Regions from separate parts of the Homo sapiens genome. Here regions 1 and 2 are each linked to region 3. Evidence: fine-mapped expression QTL. A gene starts in region 3. Each other region holds a variant in brackets. All regions are shown on one strand. Distances are between the middles of the regions.

Evidence for each region.
Region 1: its variant is fine-mapped to the expression of NBEAL2 in whole blood (INTERVAL, PIP 0.92).
Region 2: its variant is fine-mapped to the expression of NBEAL2 in memory regulatory T cells (Schmiedel 2018, PIP 0.95). The same link has a PIP of 0.9 or more in Th17 cells and follicular helper T cells.

What each region holds. Positions count from the first base shown.
Region 1 is chr3:47,078,686-47,086,685 of GRCh38, reverse strand. SETD2 (SET domain containing 2, histone lysine methyltransferase) reads left to right here. Exons shown (of 21, transcript NM_014159.7): 11 at 372-491; 12 at 2,304-2,966. Among named protein-coding and RNA genes, the nearest start is that of SETD2, 81 kb to the left of the region's middle. RefSeq lists enhancers at 2,409-2,548, 2,433-2,934. The variant A/T (reference allele first, on the strand shown) is at 3,415.
Region 2 is chr3:47,042,509-47,050,508 of GRCh38, reverse strand. It overlaps SETD2 (SET domain containing 2, histone lysine methyltransferase), which reads left to right. Exons shown (of 21, transcript NM_014159.7): 16 at 3,888-4,022; 17 at 7,809-7,948. Among named protein-coding and RNA genes, the nearest start is that of NBEAL2, 67 kb to the right of the region's middle. The variant A/T (reference allele first, on the strand shown) is at 4,162.
Region 3 is chr3:46,975,887-46,984,239 of GRCh38, reverse strand. NBEAL2 (neurobeachin like 2) reads right to left here and starts at 4,574. Exons shown (of 54, transcript NM_015175.3): 1 at 4,328-4,574. The coding sequence starts at 4,378. It overlaps CCDC12 (coiled-coil domain containing 12), which reads left to right and starts at 7,495. Exons shown (of 7, transcript NM_001277074.2): 1 at 7,495-7,603. The coding sequence starts at 7,508. RefSeq lists enhancers at 2,739-3,519, 3,520-4,300, 6,203-6,903, 7,473-7,782, 7,607-8,308 and 1 more and silencers at 4,218-4,557, 4,658-4,847, 7,243-7,382.

The DNA.
Region 1 (8,000 bases), 100 kb before region 3:
GAGAGAAGAAAGAATTATTTAAGGACTAATTTTTATGGTTTTAGCTTTATTTAAAAAGTTAGATGCAATTTTTTCTTAGTTCTTCAGAATTTTCATTATAAATGACCTATTAATATTCATATAATTTTCTACGTTAGTAAAATCCCAGTTGACTGGCTGTATTTTGTGTATCAGAGAAGATTATAATCTGTTTAAAGCATTTGTTGTAGAGTTCTATTTAGGCTAATGAAAACAGAGTTTCTAGGTTTTTTTTGTGAATGTAAGTGAACCCTATAATGTGTAACGTATACATGAACTCTCCTCGGGCTCTTTGTAATATTCTGATATTGCCTCCCAATGCTCTGCATCGTGTCTCCCTTCCCCCATGAAAGAACACACACTCACAGTCCTGCCTGAAGTCCTTTCTGGAACGTCATGGGCTGTCTTTGTTGTGGATCTGGATGGCAGAGCTAGGTGACGGCCGGGAAAGTAACCAGAAGCTTCAGGAAGAGGTCAGTTCACATTTAGCTTGCTTGTTTCTTAAAACTGTTATATTGATTGCCTCGGTTGTGGATATGTGATAATATCAGTAATTATGAATTTAGCACTGTATCATTGGTATTAAATAATCAAATAATTTTTTCATCTCAGTATCATTCCTTTAACGTATCTAACCGTACATACACCTTGTTAGTAGTTTGTCCCATGGTTTTCCTATAGTATCTTTTTAAAGTTGGTACTACATAGCAGGGAACTACAAGAGCAAGATATAATAACAACAACATAGTTAAGTGAAAGATCCAGTTTGTTGTTAAAACCAGAGTTTTAAAAAGATGGGAAGTCATATAAAATTTGAACTGTGGGGTCTAAAGAATTGGTAAAGATCTGAATTCTGCATAACAAGAGTATGAACATTTTGAGGAATCTTTTAAATAAGTGTTTTAAAAGATCTAAGTAAAGGTTCATTGGCAGCATTATTAGTGGAGTTACGATGTCTTTACCTTTCTATGAAATTAATAAAATTTTCTAACTTTCTAATTTGTAATATAATCCCAGAGTCTTTTATTTAATAAAACACTTTTAAAAACAAACAAAAAGGAATGGGCAGATAAGTACTTGTTCTTGCCTCTGTCCTTCTCCCAGGAGATTTGGCTTGAGGAAATTGAGGAAGCCTTGGGGTTTCTGTGGAACTACATTGAGGAATACTTCAGAAAAAATTCTTGGATTTCAAAATGGGGGAGGTTGTCTAAGAATGAGGAGGGGATCTCTCTTTGCTAGACAGCTGTTTATCAAAAGCTGAAGAGATGTCTGCATTTTTGTGTGTATGACAGACATCATTTAAATATGTTGTTACATAGCTGCTAAGTGTATATCACAGACACTTGGTAAACTTTTTAAGAAAAGATACCCAGGATTGGTCCAGTAGTGTATATGTTTAAAAAGCTACCCAGGTTTAGGAACTACTGGTAGAGAATATTAATCAGTCCTATTTGATGTTGTGATTCTTGCTGATCAGTCTTATTAAAAGTTTTTCTTTCTTAAGGAAAACAATATTATGATTTTTAAATATGCTTGTGTTTACAGAGATGTAGTTCTTAATAAAGCAGTAGCAAAACTGCACTACTCTTGCAGAAATAATCTGAGTCCCATCCAGAAATTGAAAAAGTCAACTGTAGGCCAGGCGCTGTGGCTCAATGCCTGTAATCCCAGCAGTTTGGGAGGCTGAGGCAGGTGGATCACCTAAGGTCAGGAGTTCAAGACCAGCCTGACCAACATGGAGAAACCCCATCTCTACTAAAAAAAAAAAAAAAAGCTGTGCATGGTGGTGCATCCCTGTAATCCCAGCTCCTCGGGAGGCTGAGGCAGGAGAATCGCTTAAACCAGGGAGCCAGAGATTGCAGTGACCAAGATCACATCATTGCACTCCAGCCTGGGCAACAAGAGCGAAACTCCATCTCAAAAAAAAAACAAAATCAACTGTAGCCAGGTGTGGTGGCTCATGCTGGTAATCCCAGCATTTTGGGAGGCCGAGGTGGGTGGATCACTTGAGGTCAGGAGTTTGAGACCAGCCTGGCCAACATGGTGAAACCCTGTCTCTACTAAAAATACAAAAGATTAGCCAGGCGTGGCAGCTAGCGCCTGTACTCCCAGCTACTTGGGAGGCTGAGACAGGAGAATTGCTTGAACCCAGGAGGCAGAGGTTGCAGTGAGCCAAGATCATGCCATTGCATTCCAGCCTGGGTGACAGAGTGAGACTCTGTCTCAAAAAAAAAAAAAAAAGTCAACTGTACAAAGTGATGTAATTTTTTTTTATGTTTAATCAGATTATAAAGACTTTGGAACACTTGCCCATTCCTACTAAAAATATGTTGGAGGAAAGCAAAGTACTTCCAATTATTCAACGCTGGTCTCAGACTAAGACTGCTGTCCCTCCGTTGAGTGAAGGAGATGGGTATTCTAGTGAGAATACATCGCGTGCTCATACACCACTCAACACACCTGATCCTTCCACCAAGCTGAGCACAGAAGCTGACACAGACACTCCCAAGAAACTAATGTTTCGCAGACTGAAAATTATAAGTGAAAATAGCATGGACAGTGCAATCTCTGATGCAACCAGTGAGCTAGAAGGCAAGGATGGCAAAGAGGATCTTGATCAATTAGAAAATGTCCCTGTAGAGGAAGAGGAAGAATTGCAGTCACAACAGCTACTCCCACAACAGCTGCCTGAATGCAAAGTTGATAGTGAAACCAACATAGAAGCTAGTAAGCTACCTACATCTGAACCAGAAGCTGACGCTGAAATAGAGCCCAAAGAGAGCAACGGCACAAAACTAGAAGAACCTATTAATGAAGAAACACCATCCCAAGATGAAGAGGAGGGTGTGTCTGATGTGGAGAGTGAAAGGAGCCAAGAACAGCCAGATAAAACAGTGGATATAAGTGATTTGGCCACCAAACTCCTGGACAGTTGGAAAGACCTAAAGGTAAGGAAGCATCTTTTGTTCATTTCAACTTGAATTACTCAGGTTTAGAGTTCTACAAACCTAAGCAAAATTAACTACTTTTTTTAGCCATGCATATTTCTGAAAAATGGAATACTGTCTCTCTTACTGTTTTATTTATAAGTGTCTCAAACATCCTCTAAACCGTGGCAAGAGTCATATTAGCCAAACTAATATACAAATGTCTTCTTTTCTGTCACTTAGAAAAGTACATCACAATAGTGAGTTCAGTCATTTAAGTGCTCTTCACATTAAAAACAAAAATCCTTTGAGGAGCAAACTTAGGATTCTATTTGTAATGAGAAAAAATTAGTGTTTAAATTTATTGGAAATCAGTTGTATTAATGGAAAATTAAAAATAATTGGAAAACTAAGATAATTTAGCAGCTTACTAAAAATGATTGAATGTAAATTTTTATTTTAGAAAAAC[A/T]ACTTTATGGAACTAGTTCGTATTCACTTCTATTATTGTTTCTGAAATGGGCCTGCTTTTAAATGCCTATTTCTTTGGACAAAAGAGGAAAAATAGATCTGGAACTCTTATGCCTATTACATACATAATCTCTTGTTGAAGAATGTAGCAAGATGTGCAGGGTTTGCTTTGCAGAAAACCCAGACTGAGTCTTGGATAAACACAAGAATGAATAACAGGATAAACCTAGGAGAGGTGTGGTACATTTCATTTGTAAGTGATCTGGACTTGGGATCCACGTCTTGAGGACCCTGTGGGAACAGGTTACTTAACTAGCTTCTATTTTTCTGTTCCTCCTTTCTTCTGCCGGAGATGAAGCAACCAAATAAACCAGCAATCCTGACTCTTTGCAGCAAGATGAACACCTGAATCCTCCCTGCCCCTAATTATGATGACAAAGCTCACTCCATTAGATCCTGTGATTTGACCCAATGAAACTGGCCTTAAACACTGAGCAAAATGAGTAGTTGGTGGTTGTGTACTATGCTTCCTCATTTGCTGTGTTGAGACCCTTCTTTAAGTATGTTGTGGTTTCAGCTTTTGTTTACCCATTTGAGCTCTTACTCATGTTACTTTCATCACTTACAATTCAGTATAAAGTCAGCCTTATTATGTCTTAGGAAATCAGGCCTTTTTCTAAATATGAAAGGAAGAGTTCGTAGTAAATTTACTTATGAAGTCAGTATGTGAACTGCAGGAATCAGAATTGCAGTTAATTGAAAGAAGTGCTGGGATAGTCACTTGATGGATTTTTATTTAAGGCCTGCTTTGTGACAGCACAGGAGTCCCTAAAAGGAGTCCCTCTTGTGTTTGGAGGCTGCTAGTGGAGCCTGTAAAGAAGCTCAGTTAAGAAGGTGGAGATGAAGACAAGTACACAAATGGACACAGAAAAGGCCTTTATAGCTGTACTTTTATGGAAGGAAGAATAAGTAGGGTTGTAGACCAGTAGTTTACTTTTGCCGGAGAAGTCTCTGGTTGATGTTATTTTTTAAAACTGCTAAGAAGTAATCATTGTAAAGCTATCTTAAAATCTGGAAAAAGTAAATATTCTTGTTTCTTCGTATGATAGTGGGTTTCTGTAATTGTGATGGTATGAATTACTCTCTAGGATATACTTAACCCAATTAGATGTAACCATGGTAATTTAAACTCACACTCTGGACACACATTTGAGTCCTACAAAATTATTTCTTCCCCTTCTTCTTATCTTCCCCACTCCTATCTGAAACATCAAAGCAATTTTATATGTAGCTTGATGATCCTCTTGATTTGAGGTTTAAAACTTTATTTGTACTTAAAATATATCCTTCTTATCCTTCATACTTTGGATTTTTCCTGATTCTTAGTGTCAAGGGAGCCGTTAAGTAAAATTCTCCTCTCTTCTTCAAACTTTAGTTTGCTCTGGAATCATTACCCATCTAGAATTGTATTACTGAGAAATGTTTTTACTTGACTGTGAACTGTGATGTTTTGTTATACATTGGTGCTGGGGTTCTTAATTCATCCATCATTCTAATTAACATTTACTATGGCTCTGTTTTCAAAACTCTGATTATGGTGGTTCTTAAAAAAACCAGACAAACATAGATAGCATTTAACCAGAAGTCTGAAATCAGGAATCCATAATTTGAACATGTTTTAGAGAAACACATTGACATGATGTGATTACTGTATATCCATACGATCCCGGCATTGAAAGAGTTAACTACTTCTGTCTGACTTCCACCTATGTGTTCGAGTAGACATTGGCTGAAAAGAAAATGTCTTATTCAACCAACCTTTATTAGGCACCTATTGTCAAACACTGTGTTAGTTGCTGATCTTTAATTCCAAGATCGTACTAAAAAGCATTGGTCTAAGATTGTGGTTATGTGGTTATGGCCATTTCAAGTCTCCCCAGCCAACCGGGGGCCACCATAACATTGGTGGACATGTGTTCCGCTTGGCTTTTCTACACACTGGATGGAGTGAAGAACAGAAAGGGATTGCTTCAGATTCCTTAATCTTGGTTTTGCTGTGATGGCAGACTATAGGAATCATCAGTAAATGAAAGAGGGTGGGAGGGAAGGGAATGAAGCTTCATGAATTACTCTTTGTCCTCCCAGATCTGATGATGATCCCCCTTGTAACTTGAACCATTTCCATCTAGCTTCTCAGGGCAGCAAGGAGCTTGTTAACATCACCAGCTGACCATGTGTCTCCTTTTCTCAACTCCATTTCCAACTTCGTGCTGAAGAAAAACGAGAACCTAGCGTGCATTCTGTGAAGAAACAGGAAGATGGTTGGGAAGTTGGATGATGCATGAAAAATATAATAGGTGAAAAGAGGACAGAGGTGGTTAACTCACTGGCGCCGGCGTTATTTTGGTGCGTCCATTGCCGACAATGGATGTCGTTCCGGGAAAATCCCTACTCCTGGCGAGAAAGGATTAAGTGAGCTACTTTTTCTATACCTATATACACAGGACCACTGCCTTGACTCCACAAGGCTTACACATTTTGACTCCTAAAGTAGACCTCAACCAGAAACATCACCTAGCACATTGCCACTTGTGAGCATGTATTCATTTTCATGTGAAAATTTACTAGGCTACATTTTCAGCAGGGATATGTGCATATATTTCTGTTTGCAGAAGAAATTGTTGCATATCACCCTTCATGCTGAAAATATACCCTAGACTTCATAGGGCAAAACAGCTGGTTACCAGTGGTGACTAAGTGTAACTTGACTGGAATATCTTCATTCATTTGGATCATAAGAAGAGGAGGTAAGGTTCCTGTGAACTTGGCAATTTCATTTGCCATTAAACACCGAGAGATTGTAATGGTTAGTGATTCCAGAGCCTCTCTTATAAACACTTAGATTATAGGATGTGCATTTCTCCTTAGAATGAAGTCTGGGTATTTCCATTTGCATCTGGATTTAGATGATTTAGGGACAAAATTACCTACATGTGATAAGTTGAACTCTTCCTAATGACTATTCTTATTCTTCTCTTATTTCATCTTTATCTCAAGACATTATCTTTAATTCAGCAAATCAAGTATTTCCCTAGAAAGCTATGTATTAAAACTCTCTATGAAAAGTTAAAATAAAACATAGAGTTGCCTAAACTGAGAAGTTTTGAGTCACTGTTTGGAATTTCACTCCCTCGCTAATATTGTATGTGAAATCTGCTGTGCAACATTTGAAAATGAAATTATGTTTCCTGGATTTCTGTGATAATTTTTGAATTCTTACTAGAGTAAGATTATTCTGTATCCATAAGGATTAATATTACTTATCCTTTAACAAAATTAGAATTGCCCCTAAAGAATGCTGTTTTAGCTACAGCAACATTGAAATTTTTAAATAAATGTCTCGTTTGGTAGAAGGCAAAAATGGTCTAAAATTTATTGGTCCATTTTTTAACCAAATACTTTCATCTAAATCAAGGGTTGGCCAAATCTGCCCCACTGTCTGTTTTTGTAAATAAAATTTTCTTTGAAACACAGCCATGTTCATTCATTTATGTACTATCATCTGTGGCTGCTTTTGTACTTCAGTGGTAGAGTTGAGTAGTTGTGAGAAAGACTGGATGGCTCACAAAGCCTAAAATATTTACTATCTTGTCCTTTACAGAAAAAGTTTGCCAACATCTGATCTAAAAGATAAAGTGCAGAATCTGGCTGCTCTAAACATTCTGGTTTTGAATGAAGTCATTTTCACTTTACTCTTTTGGGTGAGCTCTTAATTCTGTTTCCCTAAAGACATAATGATCATGTTTCTATTGCTGCCCATGAAATTAGTTTTTTTAAAAAAGTCTTGATGCTGTTTAGGAAGTGATTTGGTTGTACAACTATCTTGAGAGGTGGGAGGGTGTATACATTATAGAATTTCCAAGCTAGAAGTGATCATTAAGGAATATTGTTATTCCCTTAGGACTGTGACCAAGTCAGAAACTTGAGACTGTTTTAGTATAGATGTAGGCAGTATAATTTAAGTCTTATAGTAACCATAATGAAAACACATACATTTTCCTTCTTAATACTTTAAACTTTTAATTATGATATAATTTCAGGCTCAATGAAAAACTGCAAGAACAGCATTCTGTACATATTCTACATGTTACACACATTCTAGTGACGAGTCTAGAGAAAATTCAGTGAAAAATTCCTCTAAACTTTTCACTGAGATTCCCCAGTGTTAACATTTTACCTTATTTTTTTTATTGTTTTCTGTTTCTGAACTTTAAAAAAGTAAGTTACAGCAGAGGTGGGCAGATCATTTGAGCCCAGGAGTTCAAGACCAGCCTGGGCAACAAAGCAAAACCCTGTCTCTACAAAAACTAAAAAATTAGCGAGGCATGGTGGCACATGCCTGTAGTCCCAGCCACTTGGGAGGCTGAGGTGGGAGGATTGCTTGAGCCCAGGAGGTTGAGGCTGCAGTGATCCATGATGGTGTCACTGCACTCCAGCCTGGATGACAGAGTGAGACTTTGTGTAAAAAAAAACAAAACAAAACAACAACAACTAAGTTATAGATATGATGCCCCTGGATATTGTGTA
Region 2 (8,000 bases), 66 kb before region 3:
GATTTCTGATTAGGGAAATCAGAAATGTTTATGCTCAGCCTGTACATAAATACAATCATGTGCCATGCAATGGCGTTTTGGTCAACAACAGATGGCATTTATGACAGTGATCCTCGTAAGATTATTATGGAGGTGAAAAATTCTTCTGGCCTTCTGACATCTTGATGATCCTGACTCCGTGTAAGCCTAGGCTAGTGTGTGTGTTTATATCTTAGTTTTTGTTTTTTTATGTTGATACATAATAGGTGTACATATTTTCAGGGTACATGTGATAATTTAATATATTCATATAATTTGTAAAAATCAGTGTATTGAGATATCCATCACCATAAATATTTGTCTTTTCTTTATGCTAGAAACATTCAATTATTCTCTTCTAGCTATTTTGAAATATACAATAAGATTATTCTAAAATATAGATACCTTACTGATCTATGAAATACTTGGTCATGTTTCCTCTATCAAAATGTATGTTTTTCCCATATATATATATGTTTATATATATAAGAAACATAAATTTATATATATAAGAAAAACATATAAATATATGTACAAATATATAAACTTATAGAATAAGTTTATATATAATATATAAATTCAGAATAAGTTTATATATATAATATATACTATAAACTCAGAATAAATTTATATATTATATATAATATAAACTCAGAATAAGTTTATATATATAATATATATAATATAAACTCAGAATAAGTTTATATATAATAATATAAACTCATAGAATAAGTTTATATATATAATATATAATATAAACTCAGAATAAGTTTATATATTTAATATATAATATAAACTCATAGAATAAGTTTATATATAGGCCAGGCGCGGTGGCTCACACCTGTAATCCCAGCACTTTGGGAGGCTGAGGCGGGCGGATCACAAGGTCAGGAGATCGAGGCCATCCTGGCTAACAAGGTGAAACCCCATCTCTACTAAAAATACAAAAAATTAGCCAGGTGTGGTGGTGGGCACCTGTAGTCCCAGCTACTCGGGAGGCTGAGGCAGGAGAATGGCGTGAACCCGGGAGGCGGAGCTTGCAGTGAGCCGAGGTCGTGCCACTGCACTCCAGCCTGGGCGACAGAGCCAGACTCTGTCTCAAAAAAAAAAAAAAAAGAATAAGTTTATATATATAAGAATACATATATATATATATATATATATATATATATATATATATATATATTTAGAAAACTTATTCTATAAAAAACTTATAGAATAAGAATAAGGATATAAAAAAAATATTTGGCCCAGTGTGTTGTCTCACATCTGTAATCCCAGCAATCTGGGAGGCCAAGGCAGGAGAATCACTCAAACACAAGAGTTCAAGACTAGCCTAGACAACATAGCGAAACCCTGTCTCTACAAATTTGTTTTTAATTAGCTGGGCGTGGTGGCACATACTCGGGAGGCTGAGATGGGAGGATTGCTTCAGTCCAGGAGTTCAAGGCTACAGTAAGCTATGATCACACTACTGCATTCCAGCCTGGGTGACAGAATGAGACTCTTTTTTAAAAAAAATATAGGCCAGGCACGGTGGCTCACACCTGTAATCCCAGCACTTTGGGAGGCTGAGGTGGGCAGATCACAAGGTTAGGAGATGGAGACCATCCTGGCCAACATGGTGAAACCCCGTCTCTGCTAAAATAAAAAAAATTAGCCAGGCGTGGTGGCACGCACCTGTAGTCCCAGGTACTCGGGAGGCTGAGGCAGGAGAATTGCTTGAACCCGGGAGGTGGAGGTTGCAGTGAGCCCAGATCGCACCACTGCTCTCCACCCTGGCGAGGAGGAGGGAGGAGGGTTGTTTATACAGCTGTAGAATGTGTTTGTATTTTAAGATAAGTGTTATAAAAGAGTTAAAAAGTTGAAAAAATTTGTTTATAAAGTAAAAAAGTTATAGTAAGTTACAGTTAATTTATTAAAAAAATGTTAATAAACTTAGTGTAGCCCAAGTGTTTATAGTCTACAGTAGTGTACAGTAATGTCCTAGGCCTTCATATTCACTCACTCACCACTCACTTACTCAAAGCAACTTCCAGTCCTGCAAGCTTTGTTTATAGTTAGTTCCCTATACAGGTGTACCATTTAAATTTTGTTTTTTTGAGACGGCATCTCGCTCTGTTGCCCAGGCTGGAGTGCAGTGGTGCCATCTCGGTTCACTGCAACCTCTACCTCCTGGGTTCAAGCGATTCTTCTGCCTCAGCCTCCTGAGTGGCTGGGACTACAGGTGCATGCCACCATGCCTGGCTAATTTTTTGTATTTTTAGTAGAGATGGGATTTCACCGTGTTAGCCAGGATGGTCTCGATCTCCTGACCTCGTGATCCGCCCACTTTGGCCTCCCAAAGTGCTCGGGTTGCAGGTGTGAGCCACCGTGCCCCGGCCTAAAAAATTTTTATACTGTATTTTTACTGTAACTTTTCCATGTTTAGATACACAGATACTGTTAAGTTATAGTTGCTTACAAGTCTTTATTACAGAAACATGCTGTACAGGTTTGTAGCCTAGGAACAACAGACTATACCATATAGCCTAGGTATCTAATAGATTTGTGAAGTACACTGTATGATGTGTAAGTACCTCATACACTTAGTAGGTTTGTGAAAGTACATTATATGATGTTACCACAACAATGAAATCTCCTAACAATGCATTTCTCAGAATGTACCCCCCTTGTTAAGCAATACATGACTGTACATTTTCCTCTCAGGCTTTGTGATACTATTCTGATGGTAATTCTGCCTTAACAATTAATGTTTTTCAGTCTGGTTTATTATCCAAGTAGATTAAGCTGATCCAGAATACCAAATTAAGTGTTCTTTTCCTTTTTCCTGTGTCCTGTCAGTAATTATTCATTCAGAAACCTGCTAGATAGCTGCATTGCCTATTCAGACTACTTGAGTTTTTACTGGTGTCATTTGGAATTATATTTTGTATTTTGAGTACTTAGCATTTGATGTTTCTGTAATCATTTTACCTGCTAGAATCTCAGTCCATAGGAGCAAAATCTCTCCTTAAGCACAGGATACATGTCTATTCAATTCCTTAACAGTCACCACCTCTTAGGACAGCAAGGCTATTTTTCAGTCTTCTTATCACCTCTTCTTATTTAAGCAGATTTTCTATGCTTGAGAAATAATTACAGAGTAGGTTTAAGCCCTAGCATAGTACTTATTTCTTATGAAACTCCAGGCATGGGCAGTACCTGGTTTTGATGGTGGTCAGCACTAAATGAGATGATGTATGTTAAGGGGCTTCTTGCATCATAGAACACTGTATAAATTGGTGTGTTGTGAGAATTTCAGATGCATTGATTCTGCTTTCTGCCAAGGGGTTTTATCATAGAAGACTACAAAAAGCTAAAACAAAAGGTAGCTTAAAATTTGATCATCTTATTTACTATGATTCACACCCTTTGACCTTTTCTGATCCAAACAACCTGTTTGTTATTACAAGTTGGTAGCAAAAGCCTTCCTGAAAAGAGCAGCGTGGCATTGTTTCTTGGATATCCCAGGAGCAGCACTTCATTGGTTTTTGCTTATAGAAACTGTCCACCTGTTTAATTTTCAATGTCATTCCAATGTCATTGAAAGCTAAACAGTTGGAGAATTTCTATGACCAAAAAAAAAAAAGCTTTTATTTTCTTATGATAAAGTAAAATCAAAGTAAGTAAATGAATAGGGAATTAGTAAAAAAAGAAACTTTGGGGTTTGAAACAAAAAATTGTTTTGCACATTTATGTCCAAATATATAAACAAAAAATTTTAAAATGTTATGGGTATATCTTTAAGATTGTGCCAACTTGGAAGTCAGTCTGTTTATTAAAGTGACAAAAGCTTAAATTATTGATTTCTTCATTTTATCTTTTAGAGTTATGCCCAGCCAAGTCTTCAGTATATCCAGGGGCAACAGATTTTCACAGCTCATCCACAAGGAGTGGTGGTACAGCCAGCCGCAGCAGTGACTACAATAGTTGCACCAGGGCAGCCTCAGCCCTTGCAGCCAGTAAGAAATGTTTCAGTTGTTAAAACTCATTGGCTGTCTACTTTGTCTTTGGAAGGTTTTCTTTTTGGTTTGGATTTGTTTTGGGTTTTATTTTTGGGTTTTTTTTTCACGTGTTCTTTGTTTTATTTTATTTTATTTT[A/T]TTTTTTTTTTGAGACAGAGTCTCGCTCTGTCACCCAGGCTGGAGTGCAGCGGCACAATCTTGGCTCACTGCAACCTCCACCTCCTGGTTTAAAGCGATTCTCCTGCCTCAGCCACCTGAGTAGCTGGGATTACAGGTGTGTGCCACCACGCCTGGCTAATTTTGTATTTTTAGTAGAGACGGAGTTTCCCCATGTTGACCAGGCTCGTCTTGACCTCATGACCTCAGGTGATCCACCCGCCTCAGCCTCCCAAAGTGCTGGGATTATTTATAGGCATGAGCCACCACGCCCGGCCCGTTTTTAAATTTGTGTAGCCACCAAATTCACCTGAGCCACCCTGAGGGCGTGAACTCAACCATTTTGTAAAAAAAAAATTTTTTTAATTCTGTGGAATTTATAGTTCCGTTAATACATATTTTGCTCCGCACCTGTAGTCCCAGCTACTCAGGAGGCTGAGACAGGAGAATGGCGTGAACCTGGGAGGCGGAGCTTGCAGTGAGCTAAGATCGCGCCACTGCACTCCAGCCCAGGTGACAGAGCAAGACTCCATCTCAAAAAAAAAAAAAATGCTCCTAGGATCCTTTTTATTTGTTGTTTACCCTGACCTTGTATTTTTATATTTTACTATGAATTTTTGAAGTAATAATTTTTTTTTTTTTTTAACTCTGTCACCTAGGCTGGAGTGCAGTGACACGATCTTGGCTCACTGCAACCTCCACTTCCTGGGTTCGAGTGATTCTCCTGTCTCAGCCTCCTGAGTAGCTGGGACTACAGGTGTGCATCACTGCACCCAGCTAATTTTTGTATTTTTTTTTTTTTTTTTTTTTAAGAGATGGAGTCTTGCTCTGTCGCCCAGGCTGGAGTGCAGTGGCATGATCTCGGCTCACTGCAAGCTCCGCCTCCTGGGTTCTCACCATTCTCCGGCCTCAGCCTCCTGAGTAGCTGGGACTACAGGCGCCCGCCACCACGCCTGGCTAATTTTTGTATTTTTAGTAGAGACGGGGTTTCGCTGTGTTAGCCACGATGGTCTCAATCTCCTGACCTCGTGATCTACCCGCCTTGGCCTCCCAAAGTTCTGGGATTACAGGGATGAGCCACTGTGCCCAACCTTAATTTTTGTATTTTTAGATACGGGGTTTCACCATGTTGGCCAGGCTGGTCTTGAACTCCTGACCTCATGATCCGCCCGCTTCAGCCTCCCAAAGTGTTGGGATTACAGGCGTGAGCCACCACACCTGGCCGAAGTAACAATTTCCTAGACCAGCTATCTATCAGTATTTACCGCGTACAGGTTGAGTATCCCTTATCTGAGCTTCACGGGACCAGAAGTATTTCACATTTCAGAATTTTATGGATTCTGGAATATCTGCACTATAATTACCACTTGAGCATCTCTAATTTGAAAATGTATAGCTTGAAATATTCCAATAAGCATTTCCTTTGAACATGGCCTTTGAGTGTCATGTCAGCACTCAAAATGTTTTGTATTTTTGTATTAGGGCTGCTTAACCTGTACTAGAATATGATACTGTACTAGTCACCATGGACTAGGCATGTAGAATTGTGTGATATACTTCACTATACATGTTGTACAATGTTTAAAAAAAGTTTTTTATATGATGTTTAATATTAAGATAAGCTTTTGGTATTCTGCAACATATGTAGGAGGATATGGTGAAATCTCAAAGTGTTGTTGTTTTTGGATAAAGTGGAAAATAAGAGGTTGGCATGGGAAACAACTGAAAAAACTAAACAGAATAGCATGGTCAAATCAGCACTTTAGAACACCTACAGTTCTGGAGAAAGCTCTTGCAGCAATCCAGCAATTGATGATGACTTTAGACAGGACAGTTAGTGAAGATGGACTAAAAATACTATATGTGAAATAACAGGATAATAAGATAATGTGTACTTAGAGCAGATGTTTGAGTGCTTGTTACGAGTTGAGCCCTTCTAGGCCTTTTTTTTTTTTTTTTTTTTTTTTTTTTTTTTTTTTTTTTTTGAGATGAAGTCTTGCTTTGTTGCCCAGCCTGGAGTACAGTGGTTTGATCTCGCGGCTCACTGCAACCTCCGCCTCCCAGGTTCAAGCAGTTCTCCTGCCTCAGCCTCCTGAGTAGCTGGGATTACAAGTGCACACCACCACACCTGGCTAATACTTTTGTATTTTTAGTAGAGACAGGGTTTCACTATGTTGGCCAGGCTGGTCTCAAACTCCTGACCTCGTGATCCACCTGCCTCGGCCTTCCAAAGTGCTGGGATTACAGGCATGAGCCACTGTGCTTGGCCGACTAGGCATTTTTAATACAAACATAAATAAGTTTCCATTTGTATTCTTAAAAGCTGATCTTTCAAATAAGAGAGATGATGATCACAAGAGAAAGATGGTGACTACACTAAAAATAAAGTTTTGTGTTGGGAATAAGTACTGAATGGTTTGGAATATATATTTTTTCTTTTTTGCCTTAAACTATTAAGAGATAAATGGTTTGGAATATTAAGGGACACAGAAGCTTGGGGAAAAGAGGTCACTTTATAAGCTAAAGGATAGGGTAATGGAGGAATTGAAACTTAAGCTGGGCCAGAAAACCCCAGCTGGGTGAAATAAGAGATAAAAAAGAGTATACACAAAGCAAGAATGCTCAAAGACCCGTGTTTGCTTAAAAGTGAACACATTTTATCTGAGCCTGGGGTCTTCAGGTTCCTCTTTAACTGTGCAAGCAAAGGTAAAGGTAAAAAATGTATTCTTCATTAATAGGCTTGAAAGAAGGAACAAGTATATATCCTTGTGGTGATTACTAGTCTGCTAGGGCTGCGGTAACAAAATACCACAGACTGAGTGGATTAAATAACAGAAATTTTCTCACAGTTCTTGAGGCTGGAAGTCCAAGATCAAGGTGTCAGCAGTGTTGGTTTCTCCTGAGGCCTCTCTCCTTGGCTTGCAAATGGCTGCCTTCTTGCTGTATATACCTTTTCTCTGTGAGTGTCCTCTGGTGTCAGTTCTCTTTTAATAAGGACACCATCCTATTAGATAAAAAGTCCTCACTCTTTTGACTTCATTAATCTTAATTAGCTCTTTACAGGCCCTGTGTCCCAGTAACAGTCACAGCAGGATTAGAGCTTCAACATACATGTTTTGGGGAAACAAAAATCAGTCCATAAGTGATTATGAGGTTTTTATGTTTTTCAGAATGTGGCACTAATATTTTATAGTTTTGAGGTTTCAAGTACGGAAAAAATATAATGGATAATGTTAACATTCTGTCATATTTGCTTCTCAGGGGGTTTTTTGGTTTTTCTTTTTTTTTTTTTTTAAAGATAAAGATATTTCTGTATCCCATTTAGTTAATTGGTATCCTGCAGTTGATATGCCTTAGAATTGGTGTTTTAAAGTTGAAAAATGCTGCTCTATATGATAAACTATATGGTATCTTGGATGGTAAACTTAGAGCCAACTGTCAATTTTCTGATAGCTCTGTAAACCTCTTTATATATACTGTCCCTTATTTCCCAGACTGTACCTTTCCTTTATCCTTTTTTTAAGAGGAGGTAGATGTACATTTTTACATATTTAAGTGGGCTATTTTGTCCTATTCAGCCAGATTAAGAGAGAGATCACTGATCAAAAATGTGTGTGTTTTCTTTGTAGTCTGAAATGGTTGTGACAAATAATCTCTTGGATCTGCCGCCCCCCTCTCCTCCCAAACCAAAAACCATTGTCTTACCTCCCAACTGGAAGACAGCTCGAGATCCAGAAGGGAAGATTTATTACTACCATGTGATCACAAGGTAAGAGGAGCTGTATGGGCGTTCCCATGTCTGCTTTTACTTAATCAAAGAA
Region 3 (8,353 bases):
CCGCCTCCCAGGTTCACACCATTCTCCTGCCTCAGCCTCCTGAGTAGCTGGGACTACAGGCACTCGCCATCACGCCTGGCTAATTTTTTTTTTTTTTTTTTTTAGTAGAGATGGGGTTTCACTGTGTTAGCCAGGATGGTCTTGATCTCCTGACCTCGTGATCTGCCCGCCTCAGCCTCCCAAAGTGCTGGGATTACAGGCGTGAAACACCGCGCCTGGACACTATTTTTTTTTAAGCAAGGAAAGCATAGATTTATTGAAATGAAAGTACACTCCACAGAATGGAAGTAGGTTCAAGCAAGCGGCTCAAGAGCTGACCAATCCCTTTTACTATCACTAAGGAAAATGGGAATTTCCTTCTAGGGTCCCCATAGACCCCATGGTAACTGACCCTGTTTCTACGGGGACCCCACACTTCCCCATCAGCTCCCCAGTTGTCATAACAACTCCAGGAATCACCAGTGCCCACCCAAGCCTGGGCTGTGTGCTCATCTCCCTATCACTACAGGCCCTTCTCCTTCAGGTGCCTTGGTAATAGAGGCAGGGGACCAAGCACCAAAGAAGTGACTCCACCTTCCCTTTACCCATTTCAGGAAGGTAAACTGAAGCCCAAAAAGGATATGACCAGATAAAGCCAGGTGCGGTGGCTCACGCTTGTAATCCCAGCACTTTGGGAGGCTGAGGCGGGCAGATCACAAGGTCAGGAGTTTGAGAGCAGCCTAGCCAACATAGTGAAACCCCGTCTCTACTAAAAATACAAAAATTAGCCGGGTGTGGTGGCACACGCCTGTAGTCTGAGCTACTCGGGAGGCTGAGGTAGGAGAACTGCTTGAACCCGGGAGGCAGAGGTTGCAGTGAACTGAGACCATGCCATTGCACTCCAGCCTGGGTGACAGAGTGAGACTCTGTCTAAAAAAAAAAAAAAAAAGGAATATGACCAGGTAAAGTACCGGGGGAGTGGAGGGCCTGACCAGGTTTCTGAGAGGCAGTAGAGATCATCAGTTAGGGAGAGGGAACTCTCAGGGAAGTGTAGGCAGGACGAGGTTGCCTCCAGCCTGACCTAACCTCCCTGAACCCTTCTGAGGCCTCAGTGGCATAGCTGGACAGGTCAGCTTCTGCTCCCTCCTGTCACCTGAGGGTTTGTTCTGCCCTGAACTTTGTGACCCTGAGTGCCCTTCCACATTCAGTGCCCCCTCACTCTGTGACCCCATTCACTGGAGGGGTTGCTGAACATCACTGCTGCTCCGGCCTGAACAGGGGCCACTCATCTGCATGCTATGTGGCATTAACTTTTATGGGCTGCCCAACCGCCAGCCTGTCAGGTGCTGTCCCCAGTCCCCCAAGACTCTCCTGCCCTTCCTATGCCTACCCTGGGGGAGCTCTGGTGGGCTCTGAGTCCTCTAGATGAGCCCCCACCTGTCCACCAGGCCTGCTTGACTAGCTCTGCCCTGCCCCAACTCCTGACAATTTGCTTCTTGTCCCACTGCTCCTGCTGTTTCTTCCTCTCAGCCTTCAAAGCCCAAACTCAGCCTCCTCTGGGGTGACTTCCTGACTGGTCACTGCCATGGGACCCACCTCCTCTATCCAGTCATTCAGCTAATACCCAAGGAGCACCTACTGCATGTGAGGTCTGACAATCGTAGTAGGACCCTGCCTTGGTTTCCCCACCAGGGCCCTAAGGAGCTCCAACTGAGTGAAGTCCTGGGATGCTCTGACCCTTCCCTCTTCCCTCAGCAGCCACCCACAGCCCCCTCCCTCACTATGAGGCCCCCAGTTGAGCCGGGCCCCCAGGGGGAGGGGGTGGGTGGGTCTAAACCTGGGGTCTTTAAGGAAGAGGAAGGGCAGGAAGGAGTTACTCCCCCCTCTCCATCCCCACCCAGACCCACAACTGGGGAAACAGGTTTGCCAGCTGATGTCAGCTCTCACTGCTGAAGGGAGGGGTGCAGGTGTTGCTGGCTGGGTGGCTGGCCAACTAAAGGGTCTCTAAACACCCACTTTCAGCTCTGCCCCTTACCTTGCACTCCCCCTCCCCAAGCACACACACAATAGGTCCCTAACAGGACTCAAAGTTGCATAGCCTACTCCTCCCTGGATTGGGGGTTCCAGGATCAGGGTCAGGAGCAGGCGGGCAGGAAGGCGAGCTGGGAGGCTGGCCCTAGCTTCCTCTTCCCAGGCAGCCTGGCCCCGCCTGGCTTGGGGGTTTGCTGTTACATCCTGGATTTGTTTGCCTGGCCCCAGGCTGCCCACTGTCTGCTCAGGCTTCCAAAGCTACAACCTGCCAGCCTATGCTCCATACCTGCCCTGCGAGGTGAGGAGCTCCGGGAGGGGGAGGCTCAGCACAGATATGAGCCATAACCACCTCCTGAGGGGATGGGGGGTGGCCATGTACAGAGCTCAGCTAGATGGGGCATCAGGAGGCAACCATGCTGGAGTTACTGTCCTGGGAGATACCAAGACACTCCCAGCAGCCTGCCACCCAGGCTGAAGACCTATCATTAACATCCCTCACACTCACCAGCTGGTTTAAGCCCCCTTTACCTGCCCATGCACCTAGAGCCTGCCCATAGCTATGGGGCAGTCCGAGGAAGGAGGACTAGGGTAGGCTTCTCTTCAAACCCTCTGCTCCTTCACAACCACTGGGGATGCAGGCAGAGAAGCTGGGGCGAGGGGACCCAATGGGGCCAGGAAAACAGGAGCCTTCTCTGGTCTGGACCAGCTATAATGGCTACCTCTCCACAGAGTCCAGGAAGCCCCTGAGGTCAGGGCTGTGTCAGTTTTTTATTTTTATTTTATTTTTTTGAGACGGAGTCTCACTCTGTCACCAGGCTGGAGTGCAGTGGCGCGATCTCGGCTCACTGCAACCTCTGCCTCCCTGGTTCAAGCGATTCTCCTGCCTCAGCCTCCCGAGTAGCTGGGATTACAGGCACACCCCACCACGCCCGGCTAATTTTTGTATTTTAGTAGAGATGGGGTTTCACCATGTTGGCCAGGATGGTCTCGATCTCCTGACCTTGTGATCTGCCCGCCTCGGCCTCCCAAAGTGCTGGGATTACAGGTGTGAGCCACCGTGCCCGGCCAGGGCTGTGTCAGTTTTACAGGCAGGAAGCAGAGGCTCAGAAGTCGAGTTCGATCTGAGTTATACCAAAGAGGGACTCTACTCCATGCCTGGCCTCCTGCTGGGGCCTGGACCTCTCACAACCTGAGCGGACTGAAGAGGCTGTGGTCCTTCTGGCCTGGACTCCAGGTCCGTGGAAGACAGTGGGCCAGCCTCCTTATGGAGGGCCAGCGTGTCTGAGCATGAATTCCCCCCACTGACAAACTGTTCAGGGCACACAATGGTCCATTGTGCCCAGGGCACACCTGAGCCAGGAGCATGATGCCAGGCAGGTGCAGGGAGGGAGGTGCTGGGTGAAGGGGAGGGGAGTGTTACCCTGGGATCCCTCCCTGCTGTGGGTACAGAAGGAAAATGGGGGACTATGTGTGTGAGACGGTGTGAGTGATACCAGGTTCTCAGCTGATGGGACACCCACGTCTGAGTCACTCCCCTCACCTTCTGACTCCACCTGAAGTATTTTCTGAGATGGGTGGGGAGCTCAGGAGGAACGGGCCTCCCTCCAACCTTTTCAGACATCCCTCAGGGCCTCAAGGACCCACCCTCACCCTGGGCATCCAGAGGAAAACCTTTTCTTCTGCTCCTAGAGAGGTCCTGGGTCTACCCCTCAGAATGGGGGTGGGGTGGGGTGGGTCATTTCAAGTCAGGGAAGAGCTTATCACAGCCTGTTCGCTGGGGTGTGGGGGGATGCAACTCAAGAAGGACCTGAAGTGGGAGCATTCCCCTTCCACACACCTCCCTACCTTGGCCCACACCCCCAGACCCGTTGGCCACGACCACCCAATCAGGCCGCGCCCAAGGGAGAGGCAGCTCATAGACAAATTGAGTCCCCCTCCCCCTAGCCTCCTGGCCAGTCTCCAGGTCTCTCCAGGTCTCAGTTTCCCCATTTGTAAAAAGGCCAAGTGTCCGGCCGCCTCGGCCCAGGCCACTCTCCTCTAGCAAGAAAGACTCAGGCTGCACGGTCCTGCTCGCGGGGGTGGGTTGCTATGAAGTGCACGACCGCGAGCTCTGTCCCCAAGGCATAAGTGCCAGAGGCACCCGGCGGGCTGGGGGCACACACGTGTGTGCGGAGCCGGAGCATGCCCTGCGCGCGCGCGCCCGCGCGCGCGGCTACGCGGCCCCAGCGGCGCGGGGCGCCAGGTGCAGCAGGCGCGGGGCGCGCGAAGCTGGGGGCACCGCGGGTGCGGGTGCGGGCGCGGGGCGGGGCGGGCTCACCTGCGCGTAGTAGAGCAGCCACAACTCGTACAGCCGCTCCGAGGCGGCCATGGCCCGGCCCGGCTCCGGCCCTGCTGCGCGCCACCTGTCGCCGCCTCCTCCGCGCCGCCCGCCGGTTGCCCTCGGCCAGGCCCATGGGCGGAGGGCGTCACTCCGGGGCGGAGCGGCGCGGTACTACTGGGGAAGTCTGCGGCTGTGGCCTCCGCGGCGCAGAGCCACCCAAGTCTGCTCGCTCCTCCTCCTCACTGCCGGCCGCCGCCCAGCTTCCTGCACTTCGCTGCAGTCACCGCCGCCCCGCCTCTCCTGGGACCATGTAAAGGGCGGAGAGCCTGGCAGGAGGAGGGGCCTATGGGCCGGGCGGCCCGGGAGGGTGCCCCGCTGCCCTGCCCCACCAGTGCCATTGGAAGGGCCAGCCTGAGCCTCCGGGACGAGGGTCGGGGTGAGGAATTCCAGACTTCCCCAGGGTCTGAATCCGCCCAGGACGCTGCTCGCCTGACTGCATTTGCCGCCATTCAGGGAAGGGGCGGCGGGCCGCGTGGAGGTGGCGAGGGTCCTTCAACAATAATCTCCACCACCACCATGACGACCCCTTGTAGCGCTTATCAAATGCCAGGTGCTACTCTGTCGCTTTATGGGAAGACCGAAACGCAACTTTTGAGCTCTAGCTGTTTGTGGAGTGTGATGGCGGGAAGTTAGAGAGTAGCAGGACTAGCCTGAAATACCTTCGGGGCCGCGGTGCCCTCCCAGATCCCAGAGAGGCTTAGACCGTTGCCACGGGTCCCCCTCCCTCCTCCAGGAAGCCTTCCCAAACGCTCCAGTGGAGGGGCTCCCCCCATTCCCCAACTCCAGGGCCCAGAACTTGCTTCACATATGTTGTTTCTTTAACCTCAACAGGTGGGTGCCTCATGGCTCTGTTTTTTGTTTGTTTTTGAGACAGAGTCTCACTCTGTCGCCCAGGCTGGAGTGCAGTGACTCGATCTCGGCTCACTGCAATCTCCGCCTCCTGGGTTCAAGTGATTCTCCTGCCTCAGCCTCCTGAGTAGCTGGGACTACAGGCGCGTGTCACCAGGCCCAGCTAATTTTTTGTATTTTTAGTAGAGACGGGGTTCCACCGTGTTAGCCAGGATGGTCTGGATTTCCTGACTTCATGATCCACCCGCCTCGACCTCCCAAAGTGCTGGGATTATAGGCATGAGCCACCGCACCCGGCCGGCTCTGTTTTACAGATGGAGAAACTGAGGCCCAAGTTGACCAAATGAGGACCACTTGGGCAGCAGGGGCAGGGACCCAGGCTTGACTGACTCTTTTTTGGGTCCCTGCCACCATCACCCCGTGCCCCCTTCCCCATCCCCTTACCTCACAGTCTGGACACGGGGAAAGGGGCACGGGGTGATGGTGGCAGGGACCCAACCCCTGGTGTTGGGCAGGGATCAGGCTCTTTGTTGGGGCTGGGGAGAAGTTTTCTGGGCCCAGAGGGGTGCTACTCGTTCCAGGAGTTGACCAGTCTGGAGACTCCTAGACCTTGGTTGGCCAAGACAACAGAGACCCTGTCCTGTTTTGTTCTCCCAGCTTCTTGGTTCACCTCTGGCCTTTTGTCCTGCTTCATCCATCATAGCTCTGAGCTGAGGTTTCCTGAGCACCTCCAAACTGCATGCCAGGCCTTGGCAGAGCAACCCATCCACTACAGGGAAGAAGGCTTAGACAGACCCAGGTTAGTGAGGACAAGAGGGTTAGTGAAGGGAGGGCTAGATCTGCAGTCTGTGGCCCATGGGCCTCTGAAGGGAGTTGGAAGGGGAAGAGTGGATGTCCACCTGTAGCCAGCTTGGGAAGGGAAGACTCAGGGAGGGAACAGCCTAAGAGGCTAGTTGTCCCCTGGCAGTGGAGGTGGAGAGGGGGCGGCATGGTCTCCTATTCCCAAGTGAGAGGGGGTGTGGCTTTGGGGACCCCCACATACTGAAAGAATATCTTGACTTCAGCCTAAGTGGTCTCGCGGTTATCAGGACACTCTAGTTCATGCAGGAAAGAAGACTCTGGCAGCTTCTGCTGGGTAGCCATGAATCTTGTGGCGACTTGCAGTCGAGGCCACCCCAAGTCTTTCTAAGCTGGGGATTGGGGGCAGTACTTGAGGCCCACTGGACCCAGGTTGGGGTTTGCTCTTCCCCGGGAAAGGTAACTTGACCCTGAGGACTTTGCTGCTCCAGGAGGGGATGGGAATGAGAGGGGATCATCTTTGAGTCCAGAGGGAAACAGCCATACAGTCAGGTCCCCCTCACTGTGCAGGCTTTGTCTGAGCTGAGAGTGGTCACAGAGGGGCTTAGGGGCGCTTGTCAGGTGAGTCCGGGGAGCCACTGACAGCTGCAGAGGTGTAAGTCATACCTTGTATTAGGGTGGGATCGAAGTGGAGGATCAGGGAAGGCTTTTTTTTTTTTTTTTTTTTTTTTGAGACGGAGTCTTGCTCTGCTGCCAGGCTGGAGTGCAGTGGCACGATCTCGGCTCACTGCAACCTCCGCCTCTCTGGTTCAAGCGATTCTCCTGCCTCAGCCTCCCGAGTAGCTGGGATTACAGGCACGCGCCACCACGCCCAGTTAATTTTTGTATTTTTAGTAGAGATGGAGTTTCACCATGTTGGCCAGGATGGTCTCCATCTCCTGACCTCGTGGTCCGCCCTCCTCGGCCTCCCAAAGTGCTGGGATTACAGGCGTGAGCCACCGCGCCCGGCCCAGGGAAGGTTTCTTGAAGGCATTCGAGCCTTGTCAGGTCAAGTGGACAAGGATGAGTCAGGGCATTCCAAGAGGCCAGCATGGAGTGATTAGTGTGGTTAGTACTTGGGCAAAACCGGAGCGATCGACGCACTCTTTTCTCCTTCTCTCAGGTCTGAATTCCACTTGCTGCTCTTTCACTGATCAGCGTTGGATAAATCGAGCCTTAGCTTTTTTTTTTTTCTTTTTTTTTTTTGCTGGCTCCCCACCCACTAGGCAAGTTGTCCGGAAGAATAAGGGCGGGGCGGGGCGGGGCGGGGCAAGGCGGGGAGGGCTCGCCCATAATAACCCCGCATTGATTGGCTTTCAGGACCTCCCAGTCTCTCATTCTCGTCCTTGGATTGGCCGCGAGACATTTATCCACTCTCCTTAGGCCTGCGCGATGCAAGACGGGAGAAAAGGAGGGGCGTACGCGGGCAAGATGGAGGCAACTACGGCTGGTGTGGGCCGGCTAGAGGAAGAGGCGTTGCGGCGAAAGGAACGGCTGAAGGCCCTACGGGAGAAAACCGGGCGCAAGGTGAGAAGTGTGGAGTGAGGGTCGCAGTTGAGGCGTCCAGCGTTCGGGGTCCGGGTCGCGCTTGAGGAGAGCAAAGGGCTAATAAGGAAAGACAGCTGCCGAGGGCGCGCATGCGCGGGCGCTAACGCATGCGCGAGAAGACGGCGCCCTCCCACGATGTCTGGGGCTGCTTGGCGTGGGACTCCTCTGGCGCTGGTGCGGTCGTCGCGCATGCGCGGGGGTGGGCAAGGCAGTGGTCAGCGACCCGCAGTCCATCTGACTCCTGCTTCCCGGGTGTTGCTCGTGTAGGTATCTAGGGCTGCCTGTAGGTTCAGATGCTTGTTGGGTTAGGCGTGATTTGTTCCGTTCCTCTATGGCCTAGCTGGTCTTTAACCCCCGCCTTCGATTCTGAGTCAGACAGACTCCCCAGTCCGGCAGCACTCCTTGGACAGGGCAGCAAGTGACAGCAGTGGGTATACAGCCGGAGTCGTTTCGTGCAAAAATCAAAAAGAGGCCGGGCACGGTGGCTCACGCCTGTAATCCCAGTGCTTTGGGAGGCCGAGGCAGGCGGATCACTTGAGGTTAGTAGTTCGAGACCAGGCTGGGTAACATGGTGAAACCCCGCCTCTACTAAAAATACAAAAATTAGCCGGGCGTGGTGGTGCGCGCCTGTAATCCCAGCTTCTCGGGAGGCTATGGCAGGAGAACCGCTTGAGCCTGGGAGGCAGAGGTTGTAGTGAGCCGAGATCTCGCCACTGTACTCCAGCCTGG